Linked DNA regions of Homo sapiens: region 2 is linked to region 1. Evidence: fine-mapped expression QTL. A gene starts in region 1. The other region holds a variant in brackets. All regions are shown on one strand. Distances are between the middles of the regions.

Region 1 (5,382 bases):
AGGCTACACATTGGGTACAGTGTAAACTGCTTGGGTGATGGATGCACCAAAATCTCAGAAATCACCAGTAATGAACTTATTCATGTAATCAAACACCACCTGTTCTCCAAAGACCTATAGGAAATAAAAATAAAATTAAATTAAAAAAAGATCTCTTTACAAAAGGCACACTTTTACCCATTCTTAATCTTACCCTGGTACACTGCACCAAAGTGTAAAAACCTCTAGAGTACCAAATACAAGGATAATTCAACTCTTCCACCAACCGAGGTTCCATAAACACCCCCAGTCTTCTCATTAATAAATTTCTGGCTGAGTGCAGTGGCTCACGCCTGTAATCCCATCACTTTGGGAGGCGAAGTGCAGGAGGATCCCTTGAAGCCAGGATTTCGAGACTTGCCTGGGCAACAGAGACCCTTTCTCTACAAAAAAATTTTAAAAATTAGTCATGCATGGTGGCATGAGCCTGTAGTCCCAGCTGCTTAGAAGGCTGAGGCAGAAGATCACTTGAGCCCAGGAGTTCCAGGCTGCAGTGAGCTATGATTGTGCCATTGCACTTGCTCCAGTCTGGGTGACAGAGCAAGACTCCATCTCTTAAAAAAATAAAATTAAAAAAATAAACTTCTAACACAAATTTACCTTTAAATTTTAATAATGTTTATCATACTTTTTATATTTTCATCTAGTGTTCTAATAATAATTTCAATAATAACTCCATCCAGACAAAAAATTTAATACTTGGAGCTGTTGAATACAATGAGTTCTAAATTTCTCTTCAAAGAATCAGTATGTCAGTATGCTCGGTTCTTTGCGCTCTAAAGTCTAGCTTCCTCGTTCTCCTCGCCTCTAGTTTCAGTAAACAACCTTTTCCACCAGTTCTAATCAGTAGTTCACCTCTATTCCTCTGGTCACCTGCTCCATCCTGAGTCACCCCTGGTCACCTGCTCTGACCTGAATCATCCTGAGTCACCTGTTCTGTAACCACCCTTCCTGCCAAATTATTCACCCCGCCACTTGAGCTCGTACGCCTGCTCTTTAAAATAGCCAGTCGGAATTAGCTTAGACTGTGCGGTCCAACCCTAGCCAGTAGGGGAAAGACACAGCAGTAGAGGCTACCTGCATCAGGAATAAGAACCCCTTCCCCTCCCCTGTTCAGGTGTGCCGTTGCCATTGCTTCATCCGCGAGTCGCACCCTTCTATAGAGGTAAAATTGCCTTGCTGAGAAAATTCTTTGAGCGCTAGTTCTTCTTTTTGGCACCAAAGAACCAGCATTTGTTTCTAAGAGAGCCTTATTGTCAAAGGAAATTAAGAAAAAGCATTACACTTATTCATACATGTGCATATATGTACATATACATATTGCAGAAAAGTATGATAGGGTGAGCAAAAAAAAAAAAAAAACCCTCAAGCAAAACAATGGGGTAATTCGGTGGGAAAAGTGAAATGAAAATCAAATTCAAAGAGGAAAAGAAATGAGTAAAATTTCCCATTGTTGAAGAGTTTTATTTTAAATGAAGATGGTGGATGTTAAATCACTACCCTATTTATATTCCATTGCATAAATCTCAGAGTGACTTAATATTTTCATTTATAAATATCAATATTTTCAACAAGCCAGACATTACAAACTTGGCAACTACTTAAACTTAGGATGAAACAAAAATTAGATAACAATTTCATTCTTTTAAGAGCTACAAAGAGGTCTAAAAAAAGGTTTGACCTCTGAAAAATTAACCTTAAACCATCTAAGTGTCCTTCCTAAAACTCAAGTCAAGCCCAGGTAGCTTCAGTGGCAAGCAACGAGACCACTAGTTAAAAGACCCTCTTCTTTTCCTACCCAACTTCAACATTCCCCCGTGCCGCTTACTCCCGCACCCAGCAGCCGCCCACTTCTGGTCCTCAGCAGTCCCCTGACCCCTCCTCTCCCGCTCCCCCACTTCCCTCCCCATTCCCGTACTTCCGCCCGTCCAAGTCCTCGGGCGCATGCGCGTTTCGCCTCCCTCCCCGCCGCCGCTGCTGTGTCATGGCGGAGCGGAAGTCCCAGCCACAACGGGAAAAGGCATACTTTAGGTGGGAGGCGCTTCTCACAGCTTTCTCCCCTTCCTCCCATAACCTTTTTGATCTCCCACCGTAGAGGGGCCTCCTACCCTGCACTCTTCCGAACACCTCGTAGTCCACGGATTTGAGTGACTGGGCGGTAGACATGGCGGCGGCGAGCCCTCTGTTGAGGAGCCGGAGAGGGGCTCGGGGCGCAGCGACTGCGGCGGCTGCGAGAGGGAGGGGACACATGGGACTGCTTGGCGCACCCCGCGCCTGTCACCGGTCCCGGACGCTAGCGCGCCGGGGTCACGCGTCGGAAGCGGCAAATGAGACTGCGGGGCCTGGGAGCGAGGGCAGCCGGGGACGCCAGGAGGGAAGAGGCCGCTGGGCCCCAGGCATCCTAGGCCTCTCTTCCCGGACTGGGGAGGATGCTGTCTCCACAGCGCTCCCTACCATTTAATTGATCAAGGTACTCTGTTCTCAAAGTTAGTAAATAAAAGCCGGATGCTGTGCCCAAAAAAAGAGTGGCTTCCCCCAGCTTTATTAAAGTGTAATTGACAAATAAAAGTTGGGTATATTTGTGGTGTACAAGGTGATGTTTTGACATATGTATGCATTGTGAAATGATTACATCAATGAAATTAACGTATCCATTGCACCATTTTTTAATGAAGAGAACATTTAAGATCTACTCTCATCAATTTTTAAGGACACAATACATTTATCGCAGTCACCATGTTAGACAACAGATCTTCAGAACTTATTATTCACACTAACTGAAACTTTGTACCCTTTGACCAATATCTCCCCATTTCCAACCCCTTTCATCCCCCATCCCAGGTCCCCCACCCCACTCCATCCCAGCAAGATTGGCTTTTGAAATCAAGGGCCTGCGTGTTTAGTGTTTTGAGAGTTAGTAAATTATTTATGAAATGTTTAGGTGACTACCAAGCCAGCTTTTAAGATAAGGTCTGCAACATCTTGAGCTCTTCTGTACAGTCAGGAAGGAATTGAGCCTGAACTCGTATTCTAAACGGATTGTGATATTTTCTGGGATAAGAAACTTTTTAAAAATATGAAGTCTTTTATGCTAGTGGAAACAGACAAAAGAAAAACACTGTAGTCATCTTGTCTGCTGTTCATACAGTTTTTTTGGTGTGGGTTTGTTGCTGTTGTTTTGAGACGGAGTTTCGCTCTTGTCTCCCAGACTGGAGTGCAGTAGTGCAATCTCAGCTCACAGCAGCCTCCACCTCCCAGGTTCAAGAAATTGTCCTGCCTCAGCCTTCCAAGTAGCTGGGATTACAGGCATGCGCCACCTCACCCAGCTAATTTTTGTATTTTTAGTGGAGACGGGGTTTCACCATGTTGTCCAGGCTAGTCTCAAACTCCTGACCTCAGGTGATCCACCTGCCTCGGCCTCCCAAAGTGCTGGGATTACAGGTGTGAGCCACCACACCCGACCTTTTTTTTTTTTTTTTTTTTTGATTGTCTTGATTATTCTCAGCAACATCCCAATTGCCTAGAAGGTTAAGGCTGAATTTTATTTCCTGGTGAGCTATTACCAAGTTTTAATATAAAACCATCCACCACTCCAAAGGATCTGGATACAGCTATTGATAATCTGCCACCTTCTAGAATTCCAAATCTGTTTACTTGTGAGAATTTGCATTTCTCTATTTGTTGGCCTCAATACCTTGGCATATTTCTCTGCATCTGGCCACACAGTTAAAATAATCCACTGCAATCTGATTCAATATACTGTGCCAATTCTATTAGAGAACACCAAAAATCATCCAAAACTTGGTTAGAATATGGTTAAATCATTTTTAAAGTAAAATATATTCTGGAAATGCTAGTGCAGTTAATTTATGTAGTGAAGGTCTTAGTTTATTGCAGAGACCTCGTAACTTAACTCTTCCATCTCCCAGTTCATTCCATGCAGACTCTAGAATCAACATAAATTTTAAATCATTCTTCTTAATACGTTCAAAATAGAACCTAAGGTCTTCAGCCTCCACTACCTGCTTATGCAAATCCTGCATTTAAACTATAGTCAAGACACTCTCGGTTATTCTGCTCTCTCAGTACAGAGGTTTAAAACAAAGAACCTCTTCTCTTGGGTCTACTCTATCTGGAATGCCTCCCCCTTCTCCAAAATCTTCCTCTATCCCGCTCAGTCATCTCTGCGAGTGGTTACCAGATTTTATCCTAGTTATTTAGTGTGCCTTCCCCACTAGTACAGTCAGCCATCCATATTAGCAGGTTCTGCATCCATAGATTCAACCAACCTCAAACAGAATTTTTTTTTTTAAGTATCTTGGCCTGCACGGTGGCTCACACCTGTAATCCCAACATGTTGGGAGGCCAAGGCTGGCGAACAGCTTGAGCCCAGGAGTTAGAGATGACCAGCCTGGACAATACAGTGAAGCCCCGCCTCTATAAAAAATACAAAAATTACCTGGCTGTGGTGGCCTGTGCCTGTAGTCCCAGCTACTTGGGAGGCTGAGGTGGGAGTAGGATCACTTTTGCCCAGGAGGCAGAGGTTGCAGTGAACCGAGATGGGGCCACTGCACTCCAGCCTGGGTGACAGAGCGAGACCCTGTCTCCAAAAAAAAAAAAAAAAGTCATCTCTACTGAACTCATGCAGACTCTTGTTTCTTGTCATCATTCCCTGAACAATACAGTATAATAGCATTTACATCGCATTAGGTATTTTAAATAATCTAGAGATGACTTAAAACATACAGGACAATATGTGTATGTATGTTTCTATTAGGAACTTGAACATTCCAGGATTTTTATATCCAAGGGGATTCCTGGAACCAATCCCCTGCAGATAACAACGGACAACTATAGCATAGCTTCTAAGTAGTCACTGACTGGGAAGGTTGACATTTTCCTTTTCTTAATCTTTGACTTTTCTCCACATTTACCCAAGAGTACCCCTGCCAATTATTAGGTAGGTTTATTTGAATTTTAGAAGTGCTATAGCAACAATTGACATTTGCTTAGCTGAAAAATTTGCTGTGTCTGCCAGCAGTCTAACATTAGCAAACGGAAATTTTTATGTACCATTTCGGCATGGATTGCCAATAATATGTGATTCTAAGTCTTTAGAAAATGTACGCAAATGTTTCTAATATATGTTTTAAGTAATTATAGTATGAATGCAACTTTTATTCTTCTTTTCCATGTTGTAGTCTTTCCAATGAATATTTTAATAAATCACATTAGGTGGATAAACCACACATTTACCTACTGTGAGTCCCTGTTGTTACATATTCAGGCTGCTTCTCATTTTTCACTACCATAAAAAAGAAAATATTTATGCATGTAGCTTCC
Region 2 (5,382 bases), 140 kb after region 1:
ACTGAACTCCACATATACTCTAGTTCAAATGAAGTGAAGTAGATACAATGGCTGGATGAAAATGATTTTTGAAGGAAAAATTCAAAACTTAAAAATCCTACAGGAACTAGAAAAAACTCAACATTTCTCAGATCTAATATTCTTTTTTTCCTCCCAAATCTTCAGACCAGATCTAATATTCTTGTTCCTCTAATAACTGCAATTCAGCAGAAGTCTGGATATTTAATTACATTGCAATGAATCATTCTAATTCAAATACTTCTAAAGATTACGTTTCTGGCCAGGTGTGGTGGCTAACCCCTGTAATCCCAGCACTTTGGGAGGCTGAGGCGGGCAGATTGCTTGAGTCCAGGAGTTCAAGACCTGCCCGGGCAACACATTGAGACTCTATCTCTACAAGAAATTAAAAATTAGCCGGACATGGTAGCATGCACCTGTAGTCCCAGCTACTTGGGAGGCCAAAGTGGGAGAATCACTTGAGCCCAGGAGGTGGAGGCTGCAGTGAGCTGTGATTGTGCCATTGTACTCCAGCCTGTAAGAGAGTGAAACCCTGACTAAAAAAGAAAAAAAAGATTATGTTTCTGGCAACAGAGATTCATTCACTTGCCAATATATCTCTAGCCCCAAGTATATCATATATACAGAGAAAACTAAGATGGGCAAGATGTGACACTAATAACCTGTCATTTTTTGTTCACTGCTAATAAGTGATTAATTAGTGTTCCAATAAGCACATCAAAGACATAAATATTTGATTGAAAATTGTCTCTGCTAATCCCTCCAGCTGGAGAAGGAACCTCTCTCTTTAGAATATTTTCTTTGAAGGGCCACTGCATTTTCTGGGTCTTGCAAGAAGAGTGATTATAGTCTGTTTCCTTGAGGGTCTGATAAGAAGTCAGTGTCTCCCTCCAGGTCTGGTTAAAAGGATAACATCCTGTTTTTTTTGTTTGTTTGTTTGAGAGTCTCGCTCTGTCACCCAGGCTGGAGTGCAGTGGCGCGATCTTGGCTCACTGCAACCTCTGCCTCCCGGGTTTAAGCGATTCTCCTGCCTCAGCCTCCCAAGTAGCTGGGACTACAGGTGCATGCCACCACACCCAGCTAATTTTTTGTATTTTTAGTAGAGACGGGGTTTCAGTGTGGTAGCCAGGATGCTCTTGATCTCCTGACCTTGTGATCCGCCTGCCTTGTCTCTCCAAAGTGCTGGGATTGCAGGCGTGAGCCACCCAGCCCAGCCTCAAAAGGATAACGTGCTGTTATCCTTTGGCAGTGTCTCCTGACCTTCAAGAGATAACAAGTTGGACTGAGAAGAGAAAATCCACCCCAGACTTTGGGTTACTGTCTCCACTAATGAGCAGACCAGCTCCCCGAAAGAAAGGTCTTCTAACTTTCTCACTGGGAAGCATTTCAATAGTGTTCTCCATGAAACTTTATTTAGAATAAGAGGAAGAGACCTTATTTTGCTTGCTCCCGTAAATTCTTCAACTTTTCCAGTTCAGATGTTTGTTTCTAGGGAGCTCATTGTCATCTGGAACTGCTTCTCTGAATTTTTTTTTTTTTTTTTGAGACAGAGTCTCGCTCTGTCGCCAGGTTGGAATGCAGTGGTGTGATCTCAGCTCACTGCAACCTCTGCCTCCCGGGTTCAAGCAATTCTTCTGCCTCAGCCTCCTGAGTTGCTGGGACTACAGGCGCACGCCACCATGCCAGGCTAATTTTTGTATTTTTAGTAGAGACGGGGTGTCACCATATTGGCCAGGCTGGTCTCTTCGAAATCTTAAATCCAAACATTTCTATTCTTCTAGATCCCTTGCTCAGGCGAATCCTTTCATCTTTCCCTTATAGCTCATCAGCATGTAAGTGTCTTGACATCTCTCTTCTCCTTCCCTATTAGCTCTCTACTCTCTTCACTTACACGTCAACCAAACTTAGACTTTAACCACTCTCTTTCAAATATTCTCAACTCAATTATCTCTAGAGAATTCAGTGAGATAATGTAGGTAAAGCACTGGCAGACAGAAATGCTCAATGAATGATAGCTAACACTACCATCACTACTGGCAACATAAAAAACATTATCTTGATCTTTTGTCATTCTATTATACTAGTATGTCACTAGTATATACTGTATGTCACACAATCCTGGGCCACTAAACAGTATTAGGGAAAAAATCATTAAATTGTGCAGATAGATAATAGTAAATTCAAGCTTCCAGCCTTACCTGCCAAACAATTCTAACTTTTTAAATCAATTTTCTGAATTCTGAGACTACTCTAAGGCTTCTTCAATTTCCTCAAATCTACCTACCACTTCCCTATAATTCTCATTGTCTTGTTTCATAGGAAAAAATAGAAACTATAGAAAGAACTTCTCCAACTTCCAGTACCAAACATTCCAGCATCTGCACCTATGCTTCCTTCCCTGCTTTCCTCCTCTGACAATGGAAGCACAGTTTGATTTGCTTCTAAAGGTCAATGACTCCACATTCTCTTCCGCTCTTTGTCGTCCTCACCCAATATCTTTAACTTCTCTCTCCACTGGCTCCTTTTCATCCATATTTAAATATATCTAAATATGGCCGGGCTCAGTGGCTCAAGCCTGTAATCCCAACACTTTGGGAGTCCAAGGCGGGCGGATCACGAGGTCAGGAGTTCGAGACCAGCCTGGCCAATATGGTGAAAGCCTGTCTCTACTAAAAATACCGAAAAAAAAAAAATTATCTGGATGTGGTGGTGCGCACCTGTGGTCCCAGCTACTCGAGGCGCTGAGGCAGAAGAATCACTTGAACCCC[G/A]GAGGCGGAGATTGCAGTGAGCCGAGATGGATCCATTGCACTCCAGACTGGGCTACAGAGTGAGACTCAAAAAAAAAAAAAAAAAAAAAAATATATACACACACACACACACACACACACACACACACACACACACACACACATATATATATCCCACATTCAAAAATCCCTCCTTTTATTCCAAGTACCTCCTCATTGTCTCGCGCGTCCGTGGGAAGAGACCACCAAACAGGCTTTGTGTGAGCAACATGGCTGTTTATTTCACCTGGGTGCAGGCAGGCTGAGTCTGAAAAAGGAGTCAGCAAAGGGTGTTGGGATTACCATTAGTTCTTATAGGTTTTGGAATAGGTGGTGGAGTTAAGTGCAATGTTTTGGGGGCAGGGGGTGGATCTCACAAAGTACATTCTCAAGGGTGGGGAGAAATACAAAGAACCTTCTTAAGGGTTGGGGAGATTATAAAGAAACTTCCTAAGGGTGGGGGAGATTACAAAGTACATTCATCTGTTAGGGTGGGGCAGAAACAAATCACAATGGTGAAATGTTATCAGTTAAGGCTATTTTCACTTTTTTTGTGGATCTTCAGTTGCTTCAGGCCATCTGGATGTATACATGCAGGTCACTGGGGATATGATGGCTTAGCTTGGGCTCAGAGGCCTGACACTCATCTCTTTCCGGCTCTCCCTACCCCATTATTTTTTAAAAGGTTGTCCATATTTGCTGCCTCTATTTATTCACTTCCCATTTGTCCTTTGTCACCATAATCAGATTTCTATTCTACACTCCAACGACACTGTTCTTATGCGCTTTATCAATAAACTATCCAATAAACCCTTTCAGGTTTCACTTCATTTGACCTGTTAGCTACCTAAGGTAGGATTGTTCGCTTCTCCATGAGACACCCAGTTTCCTAGAACTCCTCCTCTCTCTGCTTTTTGTGAATATTCTTTGTGGCCTACCTTCCTTTTCTCTGTCTGTCCTTAAATGTGGGGCTCCTCAGAGATTTGTGAAGGGCCCTATTTTTTCATACTGTATATTTCCTTCCCTCCTGTCGTCCATCTACACGCTAATCTGCATCTCAGTTTAGATCACCCTCCTGATACATATGTCAACATACCCATCCCATAGGCATTCTGCCTCCCAAGCTGTTTCTGCTGTGTTCTTTATCTCAGTGAAGGACTTCACCTATCTACCCAGCGTCGTCTTGTCTCTTTCCTTTTTAATTTTTCACTTTCAGTCAACTACTAAGCCCAAGCCATTCTGCTGAAGTAGCTCTCAATTTCAACTGACATCCAGGCCATGATTATGTCACACCTTAAAGGGTCCTCCAGTTCCCAATCTTGTCAGTTCCAACCCATTTTCCAGACGAAGCCAGAGTGACTCTTTTTTTTTTTTGAGACGGAGTCTCGCTCTGCCACCCAGGCTGGAGTGCTGTGGCACGATCTCGGCTCACTGCAAGCTCCATCTCCCGGATTCACGCCATTCTCCTGCCTCAGCCTCCCGAGTAGCTGGGACTACAGGCGCCCGCCACCATGCCCGGCTAATTTTTTTGTATTTTTAGTAGAGACGGGGTTTCACCATGTTAGCCAGGATGGTCTCCATCTCCTGACCCCGTGATCCACCCGCCTCGGCCTCCCAAAGTGCTGGGATTACAGGCGTGAGCCACCACGCGCCTGGCCCTTTTATTTTTTGAGACGGAGTTTCGCTCTTGTTGCCCAGGCTGGAGTGCCCTGGCGCGATCTTGGCTCACTGCAACCTCCGCCTTCCGGTTTCAAGCGATTCTCCTGCCTCAGCCTCCCGAGTAGCTGGGATTACAGGCGTCCGCCACCACGCCCGGCTAACTTTTTTGTATTTTTAGTAGAGACGGGGTTTCACCATGTTGGCCAGACTGGTCTCGAACTCCTGACCTCGTGATCCGCCCGCCTCGGCCTCCCAAAGTGCTGGGATTACAGGCGTGAGCCACTGCGCCCGGCCGCCAGAGTAATTCTTAAAAAATGTAAATTATATCATCCCACTGCTATGCTTAAAATCTTTTGGAAGTTTGTCTCTAGGATAAAGCTCTGAATTCCTTAGGATTGCCTTCTCAGTCTCATTTCTCCGTCCCCTCTCTTACGCTATTTTGAACTTTGAATTTTTAGAATACATGCTTGCAGCGTCAAAGCTGTTCTCTCAGCTGAAATACGTGTCCTCCTCCCTCCTTTTTCTAACCAACTTTGCACTCAACCTTCATAGCTTAAATTAAGTATCACTTCTAGGAAAATGACACCCTCTCAAACCCCCTAGTTTCAACTTCTTTGTAGAGTTCCTAAGGATTCTTGTACTTATCTAGCAATTAAGAGCATTATCTTGTAATTCACGTCTTTATCTCTGCTAGACTAAGTCCTTGGGAGGGCGGAAACCAGGTTAAACTTTCTATCTCAATAGCCTAAACTGAGCGCCTTACACACAAAACAGCTGTTCAAATAGCATTTGTTCAGCGAGTAACTATTTTCTTCTTTGGAATGATGGCGGCCAGAATACCAGAAAGATGGGGACTTAAAGGGGACAGAAAAATTAAATCTATAAGGAACAAGCGGGATGGAGTAAATAAATCTATAAG

The links.
Region 2: its variant is fine-mapped to the expression of ACYP2 in monocytes after LPS (Fairfax 2014, PIP 0.92).

The regions. Positions count from the first base shown.
Region 1 is chr2:54,112,522-54,117,903 of GRCh38, reverse strand. ACYP2 (acylphosphatase 2) reads right to left here and starts at 2,289. Exons shown (of 4, transcript NM_138448.4): 1 at 2,148-2,289. The coding sequence starts at 2,205. RefSeq lists silencers at 1,841-1,900, 2,391-2,460.
Region 2 is chr2:53,971,403-53,976,784 of GRCh38, reverse strand. It overlaps a transcript of ACYP2 not described here. Among named protein-coding and RNA genes, the nearest start is that of PSME4, 3.1 kb to the right of the region's middle. RefSeq lists an enhancer at 5,274-5,323. The variant G/A (reference allele first, on the strand shown) is at 2,787.